2 separate regions of the Homo sapiens genome follow, and region 1 is linked to region 2. Evidence: fine-mapped expression QTL. A gene starts in region 2. The other region holds a variant in brackets. All regions are shown on one strand. Distances are from middle to middle.

The links.
Region 1: its variant is fine-mapped to the expression of CTSD in whole blood (TOPMed, PIP 0.92).

Annotation. Positions count from the first base shown.
Region 1 is chr11:1,781,976-1,790,301 of GRCh38, forward strand. All of the region lies in intron 1 of LOC124902610 (a long non-coding RNA gene), which reads left to right. Among named protein-coding and RNA genes, the nearest start is that of CTSD, 22 kb to the left of the region's middle. The variant C/A (reference allele first, on the strand shown) is at 4,208.
Region 2 is chr11:1,759,727-1,768,052 of GRCh38, forward strand. It overlaps CTSD (cathepsin D), which reads right to left and starts at 4,201. Exons shown (of 9, transcript NM_001909.5): 1 at 4,066-4,201; 2 at 1,583-1,742. The coding sequence starts at 4,133. It overlaps PRADX (PRC2 and DDX5 associated lncRNA), which reads left to right and starts at 622. Exons shown (of 2, transcript NR_182291.1): 1 at 622-1,468; 2 at 1,593-2,760. RefSeq lists silencers at 3,771-3,860, 4,111-4,580.

The DNA.
Region 1 (8,326 bases), 22 kb after region 2:
GTGGCCACCAGCCCCTCACCGGTGCAGTCGGCTTCATGCCCCCAAGTCCTTTCTTACTCGCTGCCTCGTCTCATCCCCCCAGGCCCCAGGGAGCAGGCAGGGCCTTGATCCCTTGCCCCAGATGAGAAAATCCTGATGCTCACAGAGGAAGTTGCAAAAGGACAGTGCAACACCTCCCAATCTTGCTTTTTTGCTGCCTGTGCAGTTTTGCAAAAGTCACATCCCTGTTGGGGTGACGGGCGGTGTCCCTGCTGTCCCCCTACAGTCGTTGTGGGTCCTCCTCCCCTGTGCCCTGGACACAGCCCTAGTGGACAGAGGGCTCTGGTCCCCGCCCCACACTCCCCCATGGGCAGGATGCCGTTCTAGCTAGCAGCCCCCTCCCCACAGTGGCTCATACTTGGGCCAGGGATGCCCCTCCTCTGTATCCTCATCTGGGAAAACCCCAGTGCCCCAGGGGTGCCAGCCACACACCACTGCCTGCCCTGAAAGAGAAGGCGCTTGCCGCAATGCCCAGCAAAGCAGGATTATCTCCCGACCTCTGTGGGTCCGGCCTGCGGCGAGTGGAGCCAGGCCCCTCATCTCACCAGGGAGCAGGGCAGGAGTCCCCCTTCACCCCATCCTCCTGTCTCTGGACCCCTCAATAGTACCCAGCCTCTGCCCACGGCCCCTCCACGTCTTTCCCTGCCCCTTCCTGCTACCCAATCCTTTGTTCTTTTGCTGGGCTGAAAAGGGTCCCCGAAGATGTCTACATTCTAATCACCGGGACCTACGTGACAAAGGGGCCTCCAGATGTGGTTAAGTCGAGGCACATGGGATGGGAGATTGTTCTGGAATATCCGGACAGGCTCAGGGCAATCACAAGCATCAGGATAGGAGCTGGGGAGGGTCAGAGCCACAGGAGACTAGAAGATGCCACTGCTGGACTTGAAGTCGGAGGAGGGGACCGTGAGTCAGGGAATGCTGGCGGCCTCTGGGAATGGGAGACACAGGGAGAGATGGATTTGCTTTTAGAGGCTCCGGAAGGGAACCGCCCTGCAGGCATCTTAATGTTAGCTCCTTGAAAACCACGTGGGACTTGTGACCTCCCAAACTGCAAGATGATAGATTTACGTTGCTTTAAGCCACTGTGTTTGTGTAATCTGCCACAGCAGTTAATTAGTCAGAGACTAATACAGACCTTGTGCCGGGTGACCAGCTGACCTTTGTAAAACCGAAAGTCCTGCCGTCTGGGCACCTCTCAACCGCAGGGACTGCAGTCACTCCACGTATTCCACTCTTTGTTCCTCTCCTGCCTTAAGCCCCGACTCATGGACCTCCCCAAGTATCCACCCCATCGCCTGGCAGAATGTCGTGTGGAGAGTGCTGAGGATGGGGCATCCGCTCCACCTTTGACAGAGACAGAAACTTGATCCCATTTCACAGCAAGAAGACAGAGGCAGGGCAGGTCCAGCAGCCATGAAGTCACGGAGTCAGGATTTTCACCCTGTGCCTGGCACCCAAGCTGGAGCTCCCACCCATCCCAAGTGACGTGGTGGGCAGGAGTCTCCCCTCCCAGCCCAGGGCCCCCAGCCTGCTCTGGCCCTAGGCCCCCACAGCCCCCATCCCTGGCTGGGCCCTGGTGGTCACTCTTCCTCAGCTCTCCCAGGCCCCTCTGGCTCCTGTTTTTATCCTCCCTAGCTTGGTCACTAAGCAGAGCCCCCAGGTCCAGACTCAGGAGTCCTTGGCCCGGGGCCCAGCCGCACCTGCCCTCCAGGCAGAGGAGGGAACCAAGATGCCCAGCAGGCATCTCCACAGAGGTTCCACCCACTCCCTCACTGGGGGAGGAGATGAGAGTGGCCGTCTCTCCCTTCCCAGCCGCTGGTGAGAGCAGAGCTGGGGCTGATGACTCTGGTGGCTCCCCCACAGCACCCCACACTCAGGCTGCCTGGCACATCCCAGTCTGAGGTGGGCAGCACCGCCAGAGGCAGCCTCAGCGGCCTCGTCCCTGGGCCCAGAGACACAAGCAGCATCCACAAGGGCCTGAGGGTGGCCCTGCGTCCTGTGCTGCAGGCTCTTGCTGGCCCCACCCACGCTCCACCCCAAATGAACCCCAATTCTCCCAGCTGACCCTGGCTGTCTGCCGTGCTCAGGACGCTGTCCCTCCTCCCCACCCACATCCGTTCCTGCCACCTTTGCCGCATCACCATCGGCCGCCCAGGATCAGCAGGGTCCTCCTGGTCCCCAGCTCCGATGGGCCCACCGCAGAGTTATACATGGACTTAGCGATGGACTCAGCTAGCTCTCGGAGGTTCGTTCGGAAAAGCAGCGGGTGAATTTGCTTAGAGCTGCCCGAACAGAGACCACAGACTGCGCAGGTTAAACAACAGACATCGATTTTTTCACATTCTGGAGGCTGGAGTCTGAGATCAAGGTGTGGGCAGGGCTGGCTTCTCCTGGGGCCTCCTTCTCCCTGTGTCCCCACAGGGCCACACCTCTGTGTGCATCTGTGTCCTAATTTCCACTTTTTACAAGGACACCAGGCCTATGGGATTAGGGCCCACCCTGAAGACCTCGTTTTAACTTGTTCACCTCTGTAAAGACCCATCTCCAAATACAGCTGCATTCTGAGGTCCTGGGGATCAGGGCTTCAACACATGAATTTTGGGGGACGTGACTGAACCCCTAACAGGGCCCCAGTACCCTCTGCCTGGCTTTCATGCCCACATCCCGAGGTAGCCAGGCCTTGCAGCAGATTCTCCCTGCACTCACCGGCACCCTGGCAGGCGGACTGGCACCCCCTCTGTGTTGTTTCCGTCTCAGACAGTGATTTAACTCCCTTCTCACCACAAACACCGCACCTTCCCAACCCCGCTTCTCCCAGACCCCTTCTCCTGGCAGGTGCCCACCTGGGCCCACCCATCCTCTCTCCTCTGCAGAGCTGGGGCCCTTACGGTTTGCTCACCATGGTGCAGTCGGCAGAGGTACTCGTTTAAAGGCTTGTCTGATCCCATTGCTCTGCCCCGGGACTCTCTGTGATTTCCAGCGCACTTGGCTACGGGAACAGAGTTCTGGGGCCCAAGGTCCCTTGTGGTCTTGGTCCCCTGCTGACCTTGGTGGCGCCCGCTCACCCCAGGAACTCTTCCCCACGTGGCCTCTGCCCAGCGAGCGCTGACCCTCTGCCCAGCTCGCTGTCTGCGGACGCCTCCTCCCAGTGCACTGACTGCTACTGTCCCACAGATCCGGCCCCAGATGCTGCTCCCAGAGGAGCCTCCCCAGTCCCTCAATGAGGCTGGGTCTCCCCGTAGCCCAAATCAACCTCTGGTGCACTTCTTTTGAACCATCTGACCCCATTTTTACTGTTGCCAGCTTAAGTGGTTAAAACTGTTTTTTACCTTTTTTTTTTTTTTTTTTTTGGAGACAAGGTCTCCCTCTATCGCCCAGAGTGGAGTGCAGTGCTGTGATCATAGTTCACTGCAGCCTTAACCTCCTGAGCTCAAGTGATCCTCCCATCTCAGCCTCCTGAGTAGCTGGGATCACAGACATGCACCACCACGCTTGGCTAATTTTTTAATTTAATTTTTTGTACAGACGGGGTCTCACTATGTTGTCCATGTTGGTCTCAAACTCCTGGTCTCAAGCAGTCCTCCTTCCTCGGCCTCCCAGAGTGCTAAGATTATAGGTGTAAGTCACAGCACTCAGCCTTTTTATCATTTTATTTGAAGTATAATGGGCTACTTAGACCCTGGCGGTTCCGTCTGACTATAACGGGGTTGAAAAGTTTCCGTCGCCTAGTGCCGTCGTAGGCCTCCTAAGGCTGTAGCACAATGAGCTGCCTTCTCTGTGTTTAGATACACAAATGCTTACCATTGTGTTGCCTGCAGGATTCAGCACAGTGCCCAGCCCTGCAGGCCTGCCCCCTAGGAGCAGTAGGCTGTACCGTGCAGCCTGCGTGTGTGGCAGGCCACACCATCTGGGTTTGTGTAAGTGCACTCTGCAATGTTCTCACAACCATGAAATTGCCTTAGGACACGTTCCCCCGTGGTTACCCGGCGAATGACTGGATAACAGATGGACAATCAACTGCATTTGCCTAAAGTGTGCCACTTGACCGATTTTGAGACCTGTGCACACTGTTGAACGCATCTCCGCGGTCGAGATCATGAGCTTCCCTCCACAGCCTCCGCTGTGACACGTTGACCATCCCTCCCTGTTCCCCCCTCTTCCCCAC[C/A]CCCAACCCTGCCGGTTCCTAGAAAACTACTGTTCTGCTTTCTGTAGATGAGTTTCCATTTCTAGAACGTTATATAGATGAAGTCAGACGGCACGTGCTTATTTTTTTTCTGGTTTGTTTCACTCGGCGTAATTATTTTAAGATGTAACCATGTCACTGCATATATCAGTGTGTTCAGCATGATTATTTTGAGATGTATTTGTGTCATGCATGTGTCTATGTGTTCACTTTCTCTCGGCTGCTGTCACAAATTGCCACACAGTGAGTGGCTTAAAACAACACAAATCTATTAACCTTACAATTCTGGAGGCCGGAATTCTGAAGAAGTGGGTCTCCCTAGGCCAAAATCAAGGTGTCAACAGGAATGACTGTGCTTTCTCTGGAGGCTCAGATGGAAAATCCATGTCCCTGATCCTCCAGCTCCCAAGGCTGCCTGCATTCCTTGGCTGGCGGCCCACCTCCATCTTCAAAGCCAGCATTGGCCGGGCTGGTCCTTCCCACATCCCGGCACTCTGACCTCCTCTTCTGCCTCCTTCCATTTTTAAGCACCTTGTGATCACATTGCTTATTCAGATCATCCAGGATAATCTCTCTATTTAAGGTCAGCTGCTTAGCAACCTTAATTCCCTCTGCAACCTTAATTCCCCTTCAGCATAAACCTAATATATTCCCAGCTTCCAGGGATTAGGGCATGAGCATCTTTTGGGGGACCATTGTTCTGCCTATCGCAATCAATACCTCCTTCATTATGATTGCAGAATAGTGTTCCATCACAGGCACAATCTGTTTCTCCATCTAACTGTTCATGGCATTTTGGGAGGATTCCAGTTTTTGGCTATTACAAGTGAAGCTGCTAGGAACACTCACATACAAGTCTGTGTTGACACCTGCTTTTGCTTCTCTTGTGTAAATATCTAGGAGTGGGTTTGCTGGGTTGCATGGAAGATATGTGGGCAATTTTTTTTTTTTTTTTGAGATGGAGTCTCATTCTGTTGCCCAGGCTAGAGTGCAATGGCACGATCTCGGCTCACTGCAACCGACGCCTCCTGGGTTCAAGCGATTCTCCTGCCTCAGCCTCCCAAGTAGCTGGGACTACAGGCGCCCACCACCATGCACGGCTAATTTTTGTATTTTAGTAGAGATGGGGTTTCTCCATGTTGGCCAGGCTGGTCTTGAACTCCTGACCTCACATGATCCGCCTGCCTTGGCCTCCCAAAGTGCTGGGATTACAGGCATGAGCAACCGCACCCAGCCTTTCCTTTTCTTTTTTTTTCCTTTAACAGTGTTTGTTGTGTTTAATAAATCTTTGCTACACTCAAGATCAGTAAGATTTTCACCTATGTTTTCTGTTAGAAGTGTTATAGCTTTATCTCTTCCAATAAGGCCTATCATCCATTTTGAGTTAGTTTTTGTGTATCACGTGAGGTAAGGGTTGGAGTTCATTGTTATGACTATCCAGTTGTTCCAACATCATTTGTTGAAAAGCCTTTTCTTCATTTAATTGCCTTGGCAATTTGGTTGAATTCAGTTGTCCATACGCATGTGGATCTATTTCTGGGCACTCTATTCTGACCCATTTATCTATTTGTGTGTCTTTATACCAGCACTGTACAGCCTTAACTATTATTATTATTATTATTTTTTGAGACAAAGTCTCCCTCTGTCACCCAGGCTGGAGTGCAGTGGCCCCATCTCGGCTCACTACAACCTCCGCCTCCCAGTTTTAAGTGATTCTCCTGCCTCAGCCTCCTGAGTAGCAGGGATTACAGGTGCACGCCACCACACCAGGCTAATTTTTGTATTTTTAGTAGAGACAGGGTTCCACTATGTTGGCCAGGCTTGTCTTGAGCTCCTGACCTCAGGTGATCCACCCGCCTCAGCCTCCCAAAGTGCTGGGATTACAGGCGTGAGCCACCATGCCTGGCCTGATTTTAGTTATTTTAGATATTTTGTATTTTGATACACATTTTAAAATCAGCTTGTCCATGCCTGGTGTGGTGGCTCACACCTGTAATCCCAGCACTTTGGGAGGCCGAGGCAGGCGGATCACAAGGTCAGGAGATTGAGACCATCTTGGCTAACATGGTGAAACCCCGTCTCTACTAAAAATACAAAAAACTTAGCCGGGCATGGTGGCAGGCGCCTGTAGTCCCAGCTACTTGGGAGGCTGAGGCAGGAGACTGGCATGAACCTGGGAGGCAGAGCTTGCAGTGAGCTGAGATCGCACCACTGCACTCCAGCCTGGGCGACAGAGTGAGACTCAGTCTCAAAAAAAAAAAAAAAAAAAAATCAGCTTGCCCATTTCTAAAAAAAAAAAACAAAAAAAAACTGTCTTGAGATTTTGATTTGGATTGGGTTGATTCTACAGATCACTTTGGGAACAACTGACATGTTGACAATATTGATTCTATCCATGAACACTGTATATCTCTCTCCATTTGCTTAGTATTTTACTTTTGCTTAGTGTATTTAGAATGTCAGAGTACAAGTCTTGGACATATTTGTCAAATTTATCCTGAAATATCTATTTTCAATTTTCTTCTAAATGGCCGTTTTAAACATCAATTTTGGGCTAGGCACAGTGGCTCATGCCTGTAATCCCAGCACTTTGGGAGGCTAAGGCAGGCAGAGCACCTGAGGTCAAGAGTTCAAGACCAGCCTGGCCAATATGGTGAAACCCCTCCCTACTAAAAATACAAAAATTAGCTGGGCGTGGTAGTGCACACCCGTAATCCCAGCTACTAAGAAGGCTGAGGCAGGAGAGTTGCTGGAGCCCGGGTGGTGGAGGTCGCAGTGAGCTGAGATTGTACCACTGCACTGCAGCCTGGGTGACATGGCAAGACTCCTTCTCAAAAAAAAAATAAAAAATATAAAATCAACTTCGAATGTTCGTCGCTGTTATATAGAAATACAATTGATATTTGTCCATTGACCTATCCTACAACCCTGCTAAACTAAGTTATCAGTTTTAGTAACTTTCTCATAGATTTTGTAGGTTTTTCTTCAACAATGATCATGTCTTTGGAAAATAAAGACGTTTGTGTTTCCTTTTCAATCTGGATAAATTTTGTTTTCTTTGCACTGGCTAAACCCCAGTGAATGTTGAATGGAAGTCGTGAGAGCAGACATTCTTGTCTTGTTCCCGACCGTAGGAGAAGAACATTCCTTTTTCACCATTCAGGATGATGCTCGCTGTAGGTTTTTCTATAGTTTTATTTTTTAAAATCAGGATGAGGACATTTCCTTTTCTTCTCTGTTTGCTGGGAGTTTTGATCAGGAATGGATACTGGATTTTGTGAAAAGCTTTTTCTGAACCTGTGGAGATGTTCACAGGCATTTTCTTTTTCAGTCTGTTAATATGGTGAATTAAATTCATTGAGGTTTTTTATTTTTTTTATTTTTATTTATTTATATATTTTTTGAGGCAGAGTCTCACTCTGTTGCCCAGGCTGGAGTGCAGTGGCACAGTCTCGGCTCACTGCAAGCTCCACCTCCCGGGTTCACGCCATTCTCCTGCCTCAGCCTCCCGAGTAGCTGGGATCACAGGTGCCCGCCACCATAACCGGCTAATTTTTTGTATTTTTTTGCTTTTAGCAGAGACGGGGTTTCACCGTGTTAGCCAGGATGGTCTCGATCTCCTGACCTCGTGATCCACCCGCCTCGGCCTCCCAAAGTGCTGGGATTACAGGTGTGAGCCACCGCGCCCGGCCCTCGTTGAGTTTTAAAACATCATAAAATAACCTGGCATTCCCAGGATAAATCTCACTTGGTCATGAGTATTATCCTTTTTATAGATTTTGGGGTTTGATTTGCTAAACATATGCCTATTTCCCATCTGTCGATCCTCTCTGGGGGTGGAGGACATCTGCTTGTACCTTTTGCACCGTCTTACACGGACTTTTTTAAGTTACTGAATTTTAAGGGTTCTTCATGTATTTTGGATTCAAGGTCGTTATCAGACATGTGTTTGACCAAAATGTTCTCCCAGTCTGTGCCTTGTGACTCCATTCTCTCAGCAGTGTCTTTTACACCGCAGAAGTTTATAATTTTAATAAGTCCAACTTATCACATCTTTTTTCATGGGCCATATTTTTGGTCCTGTATCTAAAAAGTTCCTCA
Region 2 (8,326 bases):
AGGCCCATACTGGAGGGAGGGGCATCACGGGGCCCACAGCTGCCAACAGCCACCCACTCCCACCTGCTCAGCCTGCAGGGAAGATGGGCCAGGTCCCCAGCCCTCGGTCCTAATGCCCACGGGTACTTGGGGTCTCTAGACCCCTGGCTTCTGTCACCTACCCCTGCTCAATACATGGTGAGGCTGAGGACTTCCCCACGGAAAAGACAAGGCCAGAGGTCAAGCCAGGGTGGGGACAGACGTGGCCCTCAGCCTGAGCCCCGGGTGCAGGAAAGCCCGGCCTGGAAGACTCCCCTGGTGGCCCGCAGTCCAAGGTCTGAGAAAGGAAGTGACTTCCTCCCCAGGTTGGGGCCATGTCAAGGTCTGATTCTGGGTGTCTCAGTGCCTGCCCTGCCCTCCAGGGTGAACCCCAGGCTTGGAGGGCTTCCAGGCAGAGGGGTTCAGCTGGTCAAGGGGAGAAGGTAAGCCTTACAATCACTGCCTGCCCAGCAACCCTGCCTTAATGGCCCAGGGCCTCAGTTTCCCCGTGTGTACACAGGGATAGCAGGCGCAGGTGGGGGTGCTGACTCAGGGATCAGGCAAGTACAAGGGGTCCCATGCCGCCGAGCCTCTCAGGAGGCAGAGAGTAAGAGGGTCCTGGAGTTTGGGGTCGCCTGGGCGCCCGCTTCCCCCAGGATTGGAGCCTGGGCCACCGTCAGCCACCAGATTCCTGGCACCAGCCCAGCCCAATGTTTCTCCAACCGCCTGGCTTCACGGAGCAGCAGCAGCTGCTGACTCATGGCCCCACAGAAGTGACCACTGGCAGGGGGACACTCAGCAAATTTCCATGTGTGTGTGTGCATGTGTGCGCATGCGTGCATCTGCTTGCTCGCGCGCTAGGACAATCAGGAACTGGCCAGTCGGGACCAGGCACACGGCGCCTGGTTCCCCCCAGGGCCCCCCTGGCCCAGTCACATGCCTGTGAGTCTTGGGCTTCCTGTCACAGCCAGGACTCGGGCCAAGCAGGACAGAGGGCAAGGCTCCCCCACAGTGGGCCAGAGCCCCGAGGCTGGACAGTAGGCCCTGGCCTCGAACTGACCCCATAGAGCTGGGACCAGGCTGACCAAGCCCCAGCTTGCTAGGTGGCTTCCAGAGTGCTCCACCTTGGATCCTGCTTCCCCCTGAAGGAGTAGTGGGCACAGGAGGGGCTGTTGCGAGAGGAAGAAGATGGGGAGGGGCTGGGGAGGCCACGAGTCACCACAGGCCTCCCAGCAGGACAGCAGTGAAAGGCTCCAGGTCAGCCGGCCACACTCAGGCAGGCCCAAGGACCGCCCCCTCAGGCGAGCTGGCACCAAGGCCCGAGGCCACTCCCAATCACCCTCCCAGGCCCTAGCAGGACCAAGACCCTGCAATGACAGGGGCCAGTGGCAGGAGGTTCCAGAATGGGGAAGAAAGGAGTGTGGCTGAGCCGGGACGCCACCGTGGCCAGGTGAGCCACTCAAACTGCGCTGCTGAGAACAGGAGGTGGGAATGTTCCCCATACTGCCACGGAGCTCTCCTGACAGTGGCTCCGCTTGCAGCAGGGCTAAGACCTCATACTCACGTCCATGTAGTTCTTGAGCACCTCGGGAATGGGCCCCTCGGTCACGGCTGGCACCGCCTGGGAGTACTTTGAGACGGGGCCTTTGGCAATCAGGTCCTCCACAGAGCCCCCAACCTCCGACATGGTCCGGCGGATGGACGTGAACTTGTGCAGCGGGATCCTGTCAACCACGGGTCGGGGCATATCAGGGAGGCCCTCCCGCCTGCCGGCCGACGCTGCCAATGCTGCACATCCACCTGGAGGCCCCTGGGGAATCTCAGAGTCGCCACAGCCAAAACCAAACTCCTGCCTGTCACCTGGAAACTGCTGGCCCAGCTCCCCCAAGTCAGTGAATGGCAACCCATTGCCCCCCGCCAGGTTGCACAGGCCACAGTCCTAAGAAGTGGTCACCCGCCACCCACCTCAGCCCCACACACCCAACCTGGGGGCCAGTGTGCCCAACCCTCCTCTCCTCAGCCATTCTGGAGGCTCCAAAGCCCCCAAGGGTCTCCCGTCCTCCCTCTGCACCTGCGCTGGTCTCTTCCAGGATGGTGGCCAGCATGGCTGCTCAGGGTGCTGGCGGGTACCTGTCACTCCTGCCCAAAGTGCTCTGAGGCAGCCCACTGTACCCAGCCCCCATCACACCTGCTCTCCACCCCCAGACACCTGCACGAAGGTGGCCCCACCTCCAGGCTGGCACTGGCAGCTCTGCCTGGCCTCCTCTGGCCATCAGATGGGCCCTCCACACCACCTCCAGAAGCCCTCCTTGACTACCTGTCCTCCTCCACATGGACCCTGTGGCTGCCCAGTGCCCTCATCCCACATCTGTTTCTGGGCATCCGCACCTCTCCTCACTCCATGCGGCTCCACGAGGTCCAGGACTGCACCTGGGGCCTTAGAGGCTTCTGTGCTGCCCCCCCCACCGCCCTGCCTCCTCCGACAGCTGCACTCAGGGTACCCCTCCAGAGTCCTGTCACCCAGCACACCGCCAGCCAGGGTGCAGGAGGGAGCTCCAGACTGAGATCGGGGTCCTGAGTTCTAAACCCAGGAAGCGAGTAAGAGAGAGAGGGGTCCCTGCTCCTCCCCCAGGGCCACTGGCCTTCCCCTTGGTGTGAACCCACTCCTTGTTCCAAGGAAGCTCCCCTGGGCTTTTAATCACTTAAATAAAACCTCTTCCCTGCCCCAGGGACTTGAGAGTACAAGGTCATAGCTGGCTTTTCCTGGCTTGTCAGGGGCGTGATCCCGGAAGATGAGATTATTGCCTAAGAGCTGGTGGGCTGGAAGAGCTCCAGGTTTTGTCCTGGGGGAGGGACACGCCCTCCAGGGACCAGGAAGCAGGTGTAATAGTATCAGTCGCACAAGAGCTGGAATCGGGTGAGGGCTTGGATTCAGCTACCCTTCCCTCCAAGAAGCCCCAGGATCGTTTCCCCTCTGCTGTGTCTGTCCTCCTTGGAGAGGGGAGGCCTGTGGATAGGCTGGCAAGGTCAAGGCAGGCTCAGGCTTGTGGCTACTCCCCCACAACGACTTTAATTGGGGCTACCCGCCCCCGGGCCATTCCCCACAGCCTTTGGTGAGGCTCAGTCCTACCCAGCTGGCCCAGCCAGCTCCAGCCCCTGCAGCCTTCTGACCTCACCCACCTGCCAAAAGGCAGTGGACCCATCGCAGATCCCAGGTCTCCCACAAAGGCCCAGAGCAAGGGTGGGGCAGGTGCCCAATGGGATGGGTCAGCATACCCCTCCTGGGAATGCGGGCTGCCTTGCAAGGGCTGGGGAGGGGGTCAAGAAAGCAGACTGCAGCATGGCCCTCCTCTGCCCAGCTGGTCAGGCATGGCCGGGCCCCATCCCATCCAGGCCCAATCGGTGGCCTCACCTGGCACAGGGGATCGGCCTGAGGAGCGTGTGGGCCTCACTACAGCACAACCCCAGGCCCGGGGTGGGTGAGCCGACCCACTCCCCATGCCTCCTCCTCTCTCAGGGACATGGGAACTCCTAGGGTCTCGAGGGGTCTCCCAGCCCAGGGCCTGTGATAAGAGCCGCTGGAGCAAACTTTTAAAGCCCCCAGTTCACAGGTGGTAAAGGGGTCCCTAAGGAAATGGACTCGCCCAGACTCGGGGGCTCTGAGGCCTGACCTAGGTCTCCAGCAACAAGGGCGCTCAGTACAGACCCCAATTCCACCTGCCCCGAATGAGCACTACCTCCCCCCGCCCCGCCCCGTCTCCAGGGAGGCTGCGGTCAGTCTGCAGTCCTCAAGGTACAACCCAGGGTGGCATATGGGGGAGAGGCATCTGGCGCCTCTGCCCCGGGTCCCCTGCACCTCCGGAGCCCGGCGCCCCGTAGGCGGGTGGTCCGTGCAGGAGGCCGCGCAGGGCGGCACAGGTGCATTCCAGCGCGGGGGGCGCAAGGGGCTCGTGGGGGCCACAGGGGAGCGCGAAAGTCACCACAGGCCCCGGGACCTCGGCGCCGCGACCCCTGCCCGTCCCTGAGCCCCGGCCCCTGAGGCTTCACCTGACGAGCGCGGAGGCGGGTGCAGCCAGCAGGCAGAGGGCGAGCGGCAGAAGGCTGGAGGGCTGCATGGCGGCGGCGGCCGGGTCGGAGAGGGTCGCCGAGGCCGTGCGCTTATAGCCGGGATGACGCCGCAGTTGGGCCGGATCAGCTGACCCGCGTGTTTGCACCCGGACCGGTCACGTGGGCGCGGCCGGCGTGCGCGGGGCGGGGCGGAGCGGGGCCTGGCCTGGGCGGGGCAACCTCGGCGCACGCGCACAGCGCCCGGGCGGGGGGCGGGGTGGTGGTGCGCCTGCCGCGCCTACAGTTCCCGCCGCTCGCGCCCGCGGGGTCAGCCCGGCCCAGCTTCTGGGGTCTGGAGGATTCCCGTTTCGGCCTGGCCTGGGGTCGTGGGGCGGCCCACCCTGGAGGGCCCCGCGGGGTGACCCCTGTCCCGGCCGCCGCGGCCGTCCCCGCGTCCAGGCCTGCGCGGGGCGCTGCGCCGTGGGCTCCTGCACCTGCTCCTCCCGGCGCCCCCTCGTCCCCCTCCGAGACGCTCCCAGACATCCTCTCTGGAAGCCTCTTGCAAACCAAGGTTAAATTCAAAGTCCCCAGCCCACCGAATGGACCCTCCGCTCCTCTACAGGGCTTCCAGAGAAACCTGGAAAACCAGCTCAGGCCCTGCCGCAAAGGGGGTCGGACCCGCTCCGCCCTCTCCCTCTGGGCGCTGTGCTTAGAGACTCAGGCCTCACCGATGGCTCTAGCCTCCAGATCCCAAATTCCAGCCTCACACTGGCACAGCCTCACGTGGCAGACAGCAGGCCCGAAGGCAGGCAAAGTATTCCACCCTAAAATACATTCCTTTCACATGTTTTGATATGGCACTGCACAGCTGTCTCTTGAGGGGGCGAAATTCGCGTTTTCTAGAGAAGCTCCTTCCCTTAGGAGGTCGGGCACCTTTTGTCCACTCACGTCAACTCTTTTTTTTTTTTTTTTTTTTTTGAGACAGAATCTCGCTCTGTGGCCCAGGCTGGAGTGCAGTGGCATGATCTCGGCTCACTGCAACCTCTACCTCCTGGGTTCAAGCGATTCTCCTGCCTCAGCCTCCTAAGTAGCTGGGATTACAGGCGCGTGCTACCACGCCTGGCTAATATGTATATATACACACACGTATGTATATATATATATACACACACACACATATATAGTGTATATATACACATATATATACGTATATATATACACTATATATGTATATACATATATGTATATGTGTATATATGTGTATATATACATGTATATGTGTATATATGTGTATATATATACATGTATATGTGTATATATATACATGTATATGTGTATATATATACATGTATATGTGTATATATATACATGTATATGTGTATATATATACATGTATATGTGTATATATATATACATGTATATGTGTATATATGTTTTGTATTTTTAGTAGAGATGGTGTTTCACCATGTTGGCCAGGCTGGTCTCGAACTCCTGACCTCAGGTGATCTGCCTGCCTCAGCCTTCCAAAGTGCTGGGATTACAGGCGTGAGTAATCCCACTTTAACTCTTTAGGCAAAACATAACTCTTTCAACCACTTGCCAATCAGGAAATCTTTGAATCCCCTATGACCTGGAAGCTGCCCCTGCCAACCCTGTTTCTAGGCTGAACCAATGTATATCTTACATATGTTGATTTATGGTTTTGGCCTGTAACATCTGTCTCTGTAAAATCCGTAAAACCAGGCCGGGCATGGTGACTGTTGCCTATAATCCCAGCATACTCGGAGGCCAAGGTGGGAGCATTGCTTGAGCTGAAGAGCTTGAGATCAGCCTGGGCAACATGGTGAGACCCTGTCTCTACAGAAAAGACCTGAAAATTTTAAAAAAAAGTATAAAGCCAAGCTGTTACCCAGCCACCTTGCTCACATATTCTCAGGACCTGCTGAGGTGGTTTCACAGGTCATAGTCCTCACATTTGCTCAGAATAAATATCTTCAAATATTTTATAGTGTTTGGCTTTTTTTCAACAACACTCCCTATACCCAGGGTACCCAGATGGACCTCATCCTTACTCTCCAAGTGTCCCCTGCCCAAGCGCCCACTCTCCACCTCCTCAGAGCAGCACCTCACTGGGCCCTGCCCTGGCCACCCTGGGCCCTCCTCCCTTAGCCCAGACTTGCCCATCTCCAATGTGGCACCATCCCTGGAACCCCATCTCCAACGTGGCACCGTCCCTGGAACCCCGTCTTCAACGTGGCACTGTCCCTGGAACCCCATCTCTAACGTGGCACCGTCCCTGGAACCCCGTCTTCAACGTGGCACTGTCCCTGGAGGCCTGTCTCCAACGTGGCACCGTCCCTCTAGGCCCCGACCTCAAAGGTGAGCAGTGTATCCAGGTCAGAAACTGGGTCTCCCGACACTGAGCCTGCAGAGGCCATGGTGACAGTTGCCCCAGGACTTCACCATTCTCGTGTGCCCTGGTCCTGCCTGGCATGGGGGACTGAATTAGGCCTGTTGGAGGGGAGGGCCCGGTCATTCCCCAGATGCTCTGGAGCACACAGCCAGGCGGGAGGTGCGGTCGCTGTAAGTAGGAAAGGGATATTGGGACAAATCATTTAAGGCAGGTCCAAGTCACACAGGAAATGGAGCCAGGGGATGTGCTCAACAGCGACCTCCGCAGGAAGGTCCCTCCAAGAAGGTGGCATCTGAGCTTGGACCCAAATGAAGGATGCTTCCCCATGCTCTCACCCAGGGTGCGTTTTCTCCTCCCAGCTCCCTGCGAGGTAGATGGGCCCAACCCCGCTTTACAGAGGCAGTGAGGTTCTGTGGTTCTCGGCGGGCGGGATTGGAATTCCCACCTTTTCTGTAACCAAATATATCAGGACCTTGGCCCTTGCGGAACCTCCCCGAAGCTGGATCTGCCTGATGGCCACAAATGAGTGGCTGCCCCCTCAGCCCCACCTTCCCGCCCATTTAGAGCCCTTCATCTGAGGGGGTTCTAAGCCTGAACACAGAAGCCCGAGCAGACAGACACCCTTGCCCTCAGAATCTGCCCAGCTGCTGGGGGTCCACACCTTGCCCTCAGAATCCGCCCAGCTGTTGGGGGCCCACGGCCAGCCTGGACCTGGCACCTGGGGTTATCACGTGCTTTCCAGTGGGCTGGGATCTTGGAGATGTCAGCCGACCCTGGGGGACTGGACTCCAGCAAGGGGTGAAAGATGGTCCCAGCTAGTGTCCCCTGAGCCACCCTGCTCGGTCCCCAGGTCCAGTGGTGGACGAAGCATTTGGTGTCCAGGATACTGAGATACGCACCTGTGAGGACGCATGCCCACAGAGCGTGGCCGACACTCCACCCAGAGGTCCCGGTGAGCCGGTGAGGCTGCGAGCCAGTGGGTAGTGCGGATGGCCAGTGGGGCCAGAAGCACAACGTGGCAGCGAGCTGTGGGGTGTGTGGGCCGGTGCTAGCCAGGCTAAGAGCCTTGGACCATCCCCTGAGACAACGGGGCACTGTTGAGCAAGGACCCTCTCGGGGCCCCAAGGGTGAAGAGGCCCCACCCCACCGCAGATACCATCTGTTATTCTGTTTATTACAGAGGGGGCATTCTGCCTGGGCCCGCTCAGCTTCCCAGCTCCTGGAGCAGAGCCCGGCACGTGGTAGGTGCCCAGTAATTATGTGTGGGATGAATGCCTGGGTGTTCAGGGTCCCCGAGGGACTGACCCACCAGGCAGGGTGGGACCCTGCTGGCATATTGGGTGAAGGTCAAGGGAGTGGCTTCTAATCCCCTTGCCTCTGGCTCACCCGGGCAGACCCTCTCAATCTGGGCCTCACCTCTGTCCCTGGAGAGTTGAGGTTGGGCTAACGGTCTCTGGAGCCCTTGCCTGCCCCTGCTAGGAGCTGAGGGTACAGAAGCGACCCCTGGCCTCCTTGTCTGGCTCAGATTCCCCAGACTCCTGCACCTGCCAGGCCGATTCAGGAGACCCTCTTCCCACCAGGGCTGCCTTCAGGGCTCCTGGGCCAGTGGGTGCTGCAGCGTGTCCAGGCCCCGCCTCTGGCAGAGTGCAGGGGACAGGGCCCTTTTTCACCTTTCACACCCTTCGGCTGACCGCATGCAGGGACATGGGCTCCATCTGTGGGGTGCTCGGCCCACCTGGGGAGAGGAGGCAGGAGGTGGGGGCCAGGCCCAGGCTCCATCTCAGCCTTTGCCATCGCAGCCCACTGAGCTTCCCACCACGGAGGGGCCCCAAGCTTCTCTCTGGGAAG